2 linked regions of the Homo sapiens genome follow. The protein of the gene in region 1 interacts with the protein of each later gene in a biochemical or structural test. Each region holds a gene or a part of one and is shown on either strand. Other genes may lie near its edges.

Region 1 (3,500 bases):
GTAACCAACATTTGTATTCAGTTCCAAATAGAATGAAGTCTTATAGTACTGATATTTAAACCACTATTAGGAGGAAGTTATCCATTAAAAAATTGTGCACAAACTAGGAAATAGGTTGAATCGAGTCAAATTTGTGTCCCCTGATCCCTTTGAGACATTTGCCTTTTTCTGGCATTAATAGTACAGCACAATTAAACAGACATTTATTGAGGACCTAATACGTATAAGAAATTATCAAGGTACTGGGGGGATGACTAAGCTATGGATACAACCTATGCTCCAGAGGAGCCCACACTCATGTCATGCCTCTGCTTCAAACCCTGAAATGGCTTACACCTTGCCCAGAGATGTCACCAGCACACAGCAGGCCCCTGGATTCTCTCACCTGTGCACAACACTCCAGTGACACGCGCCTCCTTGCCTTGAGCAGACAGGCACATTTCTACCCCAGGAACTGTGCAGAATGTTCTGAGTAGAATGTTCTCCCACTTCTTTAGGTCTTTACTCAGAAGTCATGTTCTTAGGAAGCCTTCCCTGATCTACTAAAATTAAATCTCAAATTTAGCTCCATAGCTGCCATTTCATATTCCCCTTCCCTGCTTTATTTTTTCTCCTTAGCCTATATCACTATCTAAATTCTTGTCAGTCTTGCTTGTCCTCTCTCTCATACAAAACAAGCTCCATCCATAAGGGCAGAGATCTTTGCACTGTGGACTACTGCATCCTCAATGCCTGGTACATAGTAGTCACTAATCACAAGCTGGCATGTAGAGTTGTGATAATATGTATAAGTGGAGGTAAAATCCAAAAGCCATGAGGACATAACAGAAAGAGTAATTCTGACTGGATTTGTTCAGAAAATCAGAGAAGTTTCACATTAGTGGGAGACATGGAGAAAGTAGAACAGAACTGTCACCTATGGTTGAGGGAAGAGGAGTGGGAATGGTAACAATAAAAGAACCAACACAGAGTTGGCATGGACCAGATGTGAGATGTGAGGCGACAAGGAGCTCCACGTTTCTGGAATGAATCACACGGAACAGTAGTCTCAAAATTCCTGGCAATATAGTAGTTTCCTGTGACACCCTAACAGTCAGATACTGAGGCAGATCCAAAGCTAAAAAGCCCCTGCAGGTCCTTACCTCAGGAAGATGCCCACTCCAGAGCCACAGGAGTAGGTGTGAGCTGTGCAGGCTCCTACATCCTCCCCTTCCAGTTCAGTCTGGCAGCAGTAACTCTGGGAGCACAGCAGAGATCCGCACACAAGGCACAGAGTTGGGGCTCTGCTCTTATCACCACCTGATTTCGGGCACCTCCAAGGGATAAAAAACCCACAAGTCATTGATCTAAAGAGTGGCTAAAGAGCTAGTGATGAAAAAACCAGCCCAGAAAAGAATTCTGCAATATCAAGTAAAGCCAAAGAAGTGTATATCCTACAGTCTATGCAAGTTTATTCCTAGAATCTGGAATAGGAAACATCTTGCACATATATACAAAGACCATGTACTGGAAACACTCAAAAGAATCAGTAACTGGAGAAAAAAAAATAAATAAAATCATCAATAGGAGAAAAAGATAAACGGTACCACTGCCATATAATAAAATACTATGGAGCAATGAAAAATCAATAAAGTTATAAACGTCAATACAGATAAATCTTAGAAACAATGCTGAATGAATGCAAAATTGGCTGGGTGCAGTGGCTCACGCCTGTAATCCCAGCACTTTGGGAGGCAAAGGTGGGTGGATCAACTGAGGTCAGGAGTTTGAGACCAGCCTGACCAATATGGTGAAACCCCGTCTCTACTAAAAATACAAAAATTAGCCAGGCATGGTGGTGTGCACCTGTAGTCCCAGCTACTTTGGAGGCTGAGACTGGAGAATCACTTGAACCTGGGAGGCGGAGGTTGCTGTGAGCCAAGATCACACCACTGCACTCCAGCCTGGGCAACAGAGTGAGACCCTGTCTCAATAAATAAATAAATAAATAAATAAATAAAATAAAATACAACATACAGCTCTCCCTCTCCCTCTCTTCTCTCCCTCTCCCCTTTGCACAGTCTCCCTCTGATGCCGAGCCGAGGCTGGACTGTACTGCCGCCATCTTGGCTCACTGCAACCTCCCTGCCTGATTCTCCTGTCTCAGCCTGCCCAGTGCCTGGGATTGCAGGCGCGCGCCGCCACGCCTGACTGGTTTTTGTATTTTTTGGTGGAGACGGGGTTTCGCCGTGTTGGCCGGGCTGGTCTCCAGCTCCTGACGGCGAGTGATCTGCCAGCCTCGGCCTCCCGAGGTGCCAGGATTGCAGAGGGAGTCTTGCTCACTCAGTGCTCAATGTTGCCCAGGCTGGAGTGCAGTGGCGCGATCTCGGCTCGCTACAACCTCCACCTCCCAGCCGCCTGCCTTGGCCTCCCAAAGTGCGGAGATTGCAGCCTCTGCCCGGCCGCCACCCCGTCTAGGAAGTGACGAGCGTCTCTGCCCGGCCGCCCAGTCTGAGAAGTGAGGAGCCCCTCTTCCTGGCCGTCATCCCGTCTAGGAAGTGAGGAGCGTCTCTGCCCGGCCGCCCATCGTCTGGGATGTGGGGAGCGCCTCTGCCCCGCCGCCCCGTCTGGGATGTGAGGAGCGCCTCTGCCCGGCCGCGACCCTGTCTGGGAGGTGAGGAGTGTCTCCGACCGGCTGCCCCGTCTGAGAAGTGAGGAGCCCCTCCGCCCGGCAGCCGCCCCGTCTGGGAAGTGAGGAGCGTCTCCGCCCAGCAGCCGCCCAGTCCGGGAGGTGGGGGGCAGCCCCTACCCGGCCAGCTGCCCCGTCCGGGAGGTGGGGGGCAGCTCCCACCCGGCCAGCCGCCCCGTCCGGGAGGTGGGGGGCGCCTCTGCCCGGCTGCCCCGTCTGGGAAGTGAGGAGCCTCTCTACCTGGCCGCCACCCCATCTGGGAGGTGCAACCAACAGCTCATTGACAACAGGCCGTGATGACGATGGCGGTTTTGTCGAATAGAAAAGGGGGAAATGTGGGGAAAAGAAAGAGAGATCAGATTGTTACTGTGTCTGTGTAGAAAGAAGTAGACATAGGAGACTCCATTTTGTTCTGTACTAAGAAAAATTCTTCTGCCTTGGGATGCTGTTAATCTATAACCTTACCCCCAACCCCGTGCTCTCTGAAACATGTGCTGTGTCCACTAAGGGTTAAATGGATTAAGGGCGGTGCAAGATGTGCTTTGTTAAACAGATGCTTGAAGGCAGCATGCTCGTTAAGAGTCATCACCACTCCCTAATCTCAAGTACCCAGGGACACAAACACTGCGGAAGGCCGCAGGGACCTCTGCCTAGGAAAACCAGAGACCTTTGTTCACATCTTTATCTGCTGACCTTCCCTCCACTATTGTCCTATGACCCTGCCAAATCCCCCCCTCCGAGAAACACCCAAGAATGATCAATAAATACTAATTAAAAAAAAAACATACAAAATAACAATACATGCTGCTCAAGAATAGAAACTTATATAGTT
Region 2 (3,500 bases), on another chromosome or scaffold:
GATATTCTGTATTTTGTTCATTAGTTGATAAGATATTTGAGTTCTGATTTACTTTTGGATTCTCAGAAATAGTTACTCAGAACTTTAAAATTGTTTTACACTTTTATGGGTTTTACAGAGTTACTAATTTTTGCTTTGGGCAGCTAAGTTTGATGTTTCTGTGGGATGGACAGTAAGTTGGCTTTGAAGCTGAGAGATAGATCTAGGCTAAGGCCAATGATTGGGAATACTGAGCACATGGATGGTAACTGAGGCCACAGGAGTCAATAGGATTGCCCAGTGTGTGTGTAAAGGGTAAGAAGGAAAAGGGCTTAGGATAGAGTCTGGAAGAATCACAGTGTTTAAGTGTGATTTGCTCCCCACTCTCTGTTATGGTTTGCTCCATGAAATGGTATCTGTAACATTTAAATGAATTTACTCTTTGTTTTACATAGCAGTTCACTTCTAGAAATTTTTTCTACAGATAGTCTCACAATTGGGCAAATACTTAACGTTCATTGCTTGTATTTTCACAGAATCAGTCTAAAAAGGGAAGAACCCTCCCAGATGTTCAGGACTTTTGATACCTGTTAGTCACTTGATTTTTTTTTTTAATGAAAGGAATATGTATACTCATTGCACAAATAAATCATAAACACAAGGAAGGATAAAGAAAATAAGATAGGCCAGGCACGGTGGCCCACGCCTGTAGTCCCAGCACTTTGGGAGGCTGAGGCAGGTGGATCACGAGGTCAGGACTTCGAGACTAGCCTGGCCAGCATAGTGAAACCCCGTCTTTACTAAAAATATAAAAAATTATCCAAGCATGGTGATGTGTGCCTGTAATCCCACCTACTTGGGAGGCTGAGGCAGGAGAATTGCTTGAACCCAGGAGGCGGAGGTTGCAGTGAGCCGAGATCACGCCACTGCACTCCAGCCTGGGTGACAGAGCGAGACTCCATCTCAAAAAAAAAGAAAAAGAAAAGAGGATCATCTGCTGGGGGCGCTGTGGCTCACACCTGTAATCCCAGCACTTTGGGAGACCGAGGTGGGCAGATCACCTGAGGTCAGGAATTCGAGACTAGCCTGGCCAACATGGTAAAACCCCATCTCTACTAAAAATACAAAAATTAGCTGGGTCGTGGTTGTACATGCCTGTGATCCCAGCTACTCGGGAGGCTGAGGCAGGAGTATTGCTTGAACCCAGGAGGTGGAGGTTGCAGTGAGCCGAGTTCTCACCACTGCACTCCAGCCTGGACAACAGACTGAGAATCCATCTCAAAAAAAGAAAAAAAAAAAGGGCCGGGCACAGTGGCTCATGCTTGTAATCCCAGCACTTTGGGAGGCCGAGGCAGGTGGATCACCTGAGGTCAGGAGTTCGAGACCAGCCTGGCCAACATATGGCAAAACCCCGTCTCTACTAAAAATGCAAAAATTAGCTGGGCGTGGTGGTGGGCACCTGTAATCCCAACTACGTGGGAGGCTGAGGCAGCAGAATCCCTTGAACCTGGGAGGCGGAGCTTGCAGTGAGTTGAGATTGCACCATTGCACTCCATCCTGGGCAACAAGAGCGAAACTCCATCTCAAAAAAAAAAAAGGAAAAGAAAATAAGATCATCCATAACCCTACTATTACAAATATCCACTACTTACATTTTGACATTCGGTCTTAGAAATGTTTTTTGACTACATATACTTTAAATGAATTTATATAAAACTTTTTAATCAAAATAGGAAATTATAAATAATTAAAAACTTATTTTTAAGGTAATAGTCTGTGGATGTCTTACTCTATAAACAGTAGATATGTATCATTTCTGGTGATTGTGTTGCTATTGCTTATATGAATGTATCAGTTGTTTATTTAGCCAGTTCCCTCTTTTATGGACCACAAGGTAGAATTAGTTTTTCACTTTTTTTTTTTTTTTTTTAAGATAGAGTCTCGCTCTGTCGCCCAGGCTGGAGTGCAGTGGCGTGATCTGAGCTCACTGCAACCTCTGCCTCCTGGGTTCAAGCAATTCTTCTGCCTCAGCCTCCTGAGTAGCTGGGACTACACGCATGCACTACCATGCCTGGCTAATTTTTGTATTTTTAGTAGAGACAGGGTTTCACCATGCTGGCCAGGCTGGTCTCGAACTCATGACCTCATGATCCACCCGCCTCGGCCTCCCAAAGTGCTGGGATTATGGGTGTGAGCCACTGCGCCTGGCCTTCTACTCTTATAAGTAGTATTATAGTGAACATCCTGTAAGTAAATCTTTGTGCATGTCCACGTTTATTTCCTTAATTTCTAGGAGTGTAATTGCTATGTCAAAAATAAGCAGTTTTTTAAAAGCTTTAAGAATATTTAGAAATACGGAATTTAAATAGATTGCTAAATGATGTGTGTTGAAGAAATTTAACTCAAAGCCTCCTGATCATAACATGCTGTCTTAGTTCATTTTCTGCTACAACAGAATAGCAGGGACTGATAATTTGTAAATTTGTAAATAATAGTAGTTTGTTTGGCTCATGGTTCTGGAGACTGGGCAGTCCAAGAGCATGGCGCCAGCACCTAAGCAAGGTCCTTGGTGCTGTGACATCCCATGGTGGAAGGCAGAATGACAAGTGAGCACACAAGACATAAGAAAAGGTGCCAAACTCATCCTTTTATCTGGAGTACACTCCTGCCCTGAGCACTCATGACCTAAGCACTTCTTAAAGGTCCCACTTCTCAACAGTGTTACAATGGCAATTAATTTTTTTTTATTTAATTTTTTTACTTTTATTTTTTTGAGACAGGTTCTTACCCTGTCATCCAGGCTGGAGTGCAGTGGTGTGATCTCAGCTCACTGCAACCCCTGCCTCCTGGGTTCAAGCGATTCTCCTGCCTCAGCCTTCCAAGTAGCTGGGATTACAGGCATGTGCCACCATGCCCGGCTAATTTTTATAATTTTAGTAGAGATGGGGTTTCACTGTGTTGGCCCGACTGGTCTCAGACTCCTGACCTCAAGCAATCCTGCCTGCCTCGGCCTCCCAAAGTGTTCAGGACTGGCGTGAGCCACCGTGCCCAGCCTCCAGCAATTACATTTCAACATGAGATTTGGAGGGAACATTCAAACCATAGCAGGTGCAAAATAAGAGACCTTAGTTTTAAGACAGGTTATCCTGTGATACAGAAGAATTTAGTTATTACCTAATATTTAAAACTTCTAAGCCAAGCATTCTGTTTGGTAAAGATTTCTCTTAACTGTTAGATATGGCAGAGTGTGTAACTAATTTTAGTATTGTCTTTGCAGTGTATGCTGATGGTAGCATATGTTTAGATATCCTTCAGAATCGATGGAGTCCAACATATGATGTATCTTCTATCTTAACATCAATTCAGGTAAGTGTGTGTTAGGATGTATTATAATTTGTCAGTATTCTGTAGGATATAGTCAGCTCCTTAGCACACAGGTAACCAATGGCAGAGCTTGGACAAGAATCCATGCTTTTCAGCTAACTTTTCTCTTTCAGTAGTGCCTACTTGGGATCCAGTCT

The links. Proteins that work in one complex are often made in the same cells at the same time.
Region 2: the proteins of UBR2 (region 1) and UBE2B form a complex in vitro, tested with the Homo sapiens proteins (one study listed by BioGRID).

Annotation. Positions count from the first base shown.
Region 1 is NC_000006.12:42,686,029-42,689,528, reverse strand, and holds part of UBR2 (E3 ubiquitin-protein ligase UBR2), read right to left. Parts: intron 1,314-3,500; coding exon 1,143-1,313; intron 543-1,142; coding exon of another isoform or gene 521-542; exon of another isoform or gene 1-520. UniProt on the Homo sapiens protein: E3 ubiquitin-protein ligase which is a component of the N-end rule pathway.
Region 2 is NC_000005.10:134,385,069-134,388,568, forward strand, and holds part of UBE2B (ubiquitin-conjugating enzyme E2 B), read left to right. Parts: intron 1-3,256; coding exon 3,257-3,345; intron 3,346-3,500. UniProt on the Homo sapiens protein: E2 ubiquitin-conjugating enzyme that accepts ubiquitin from the ubiquitin-activating enzyme E1 and transfers it to a E3 ubiquitin-protein ligase. In vitro catalyzes 'Lys-11'-, as well as 'Lys-48'- and 'Lys-63'-linked polyubiquitination.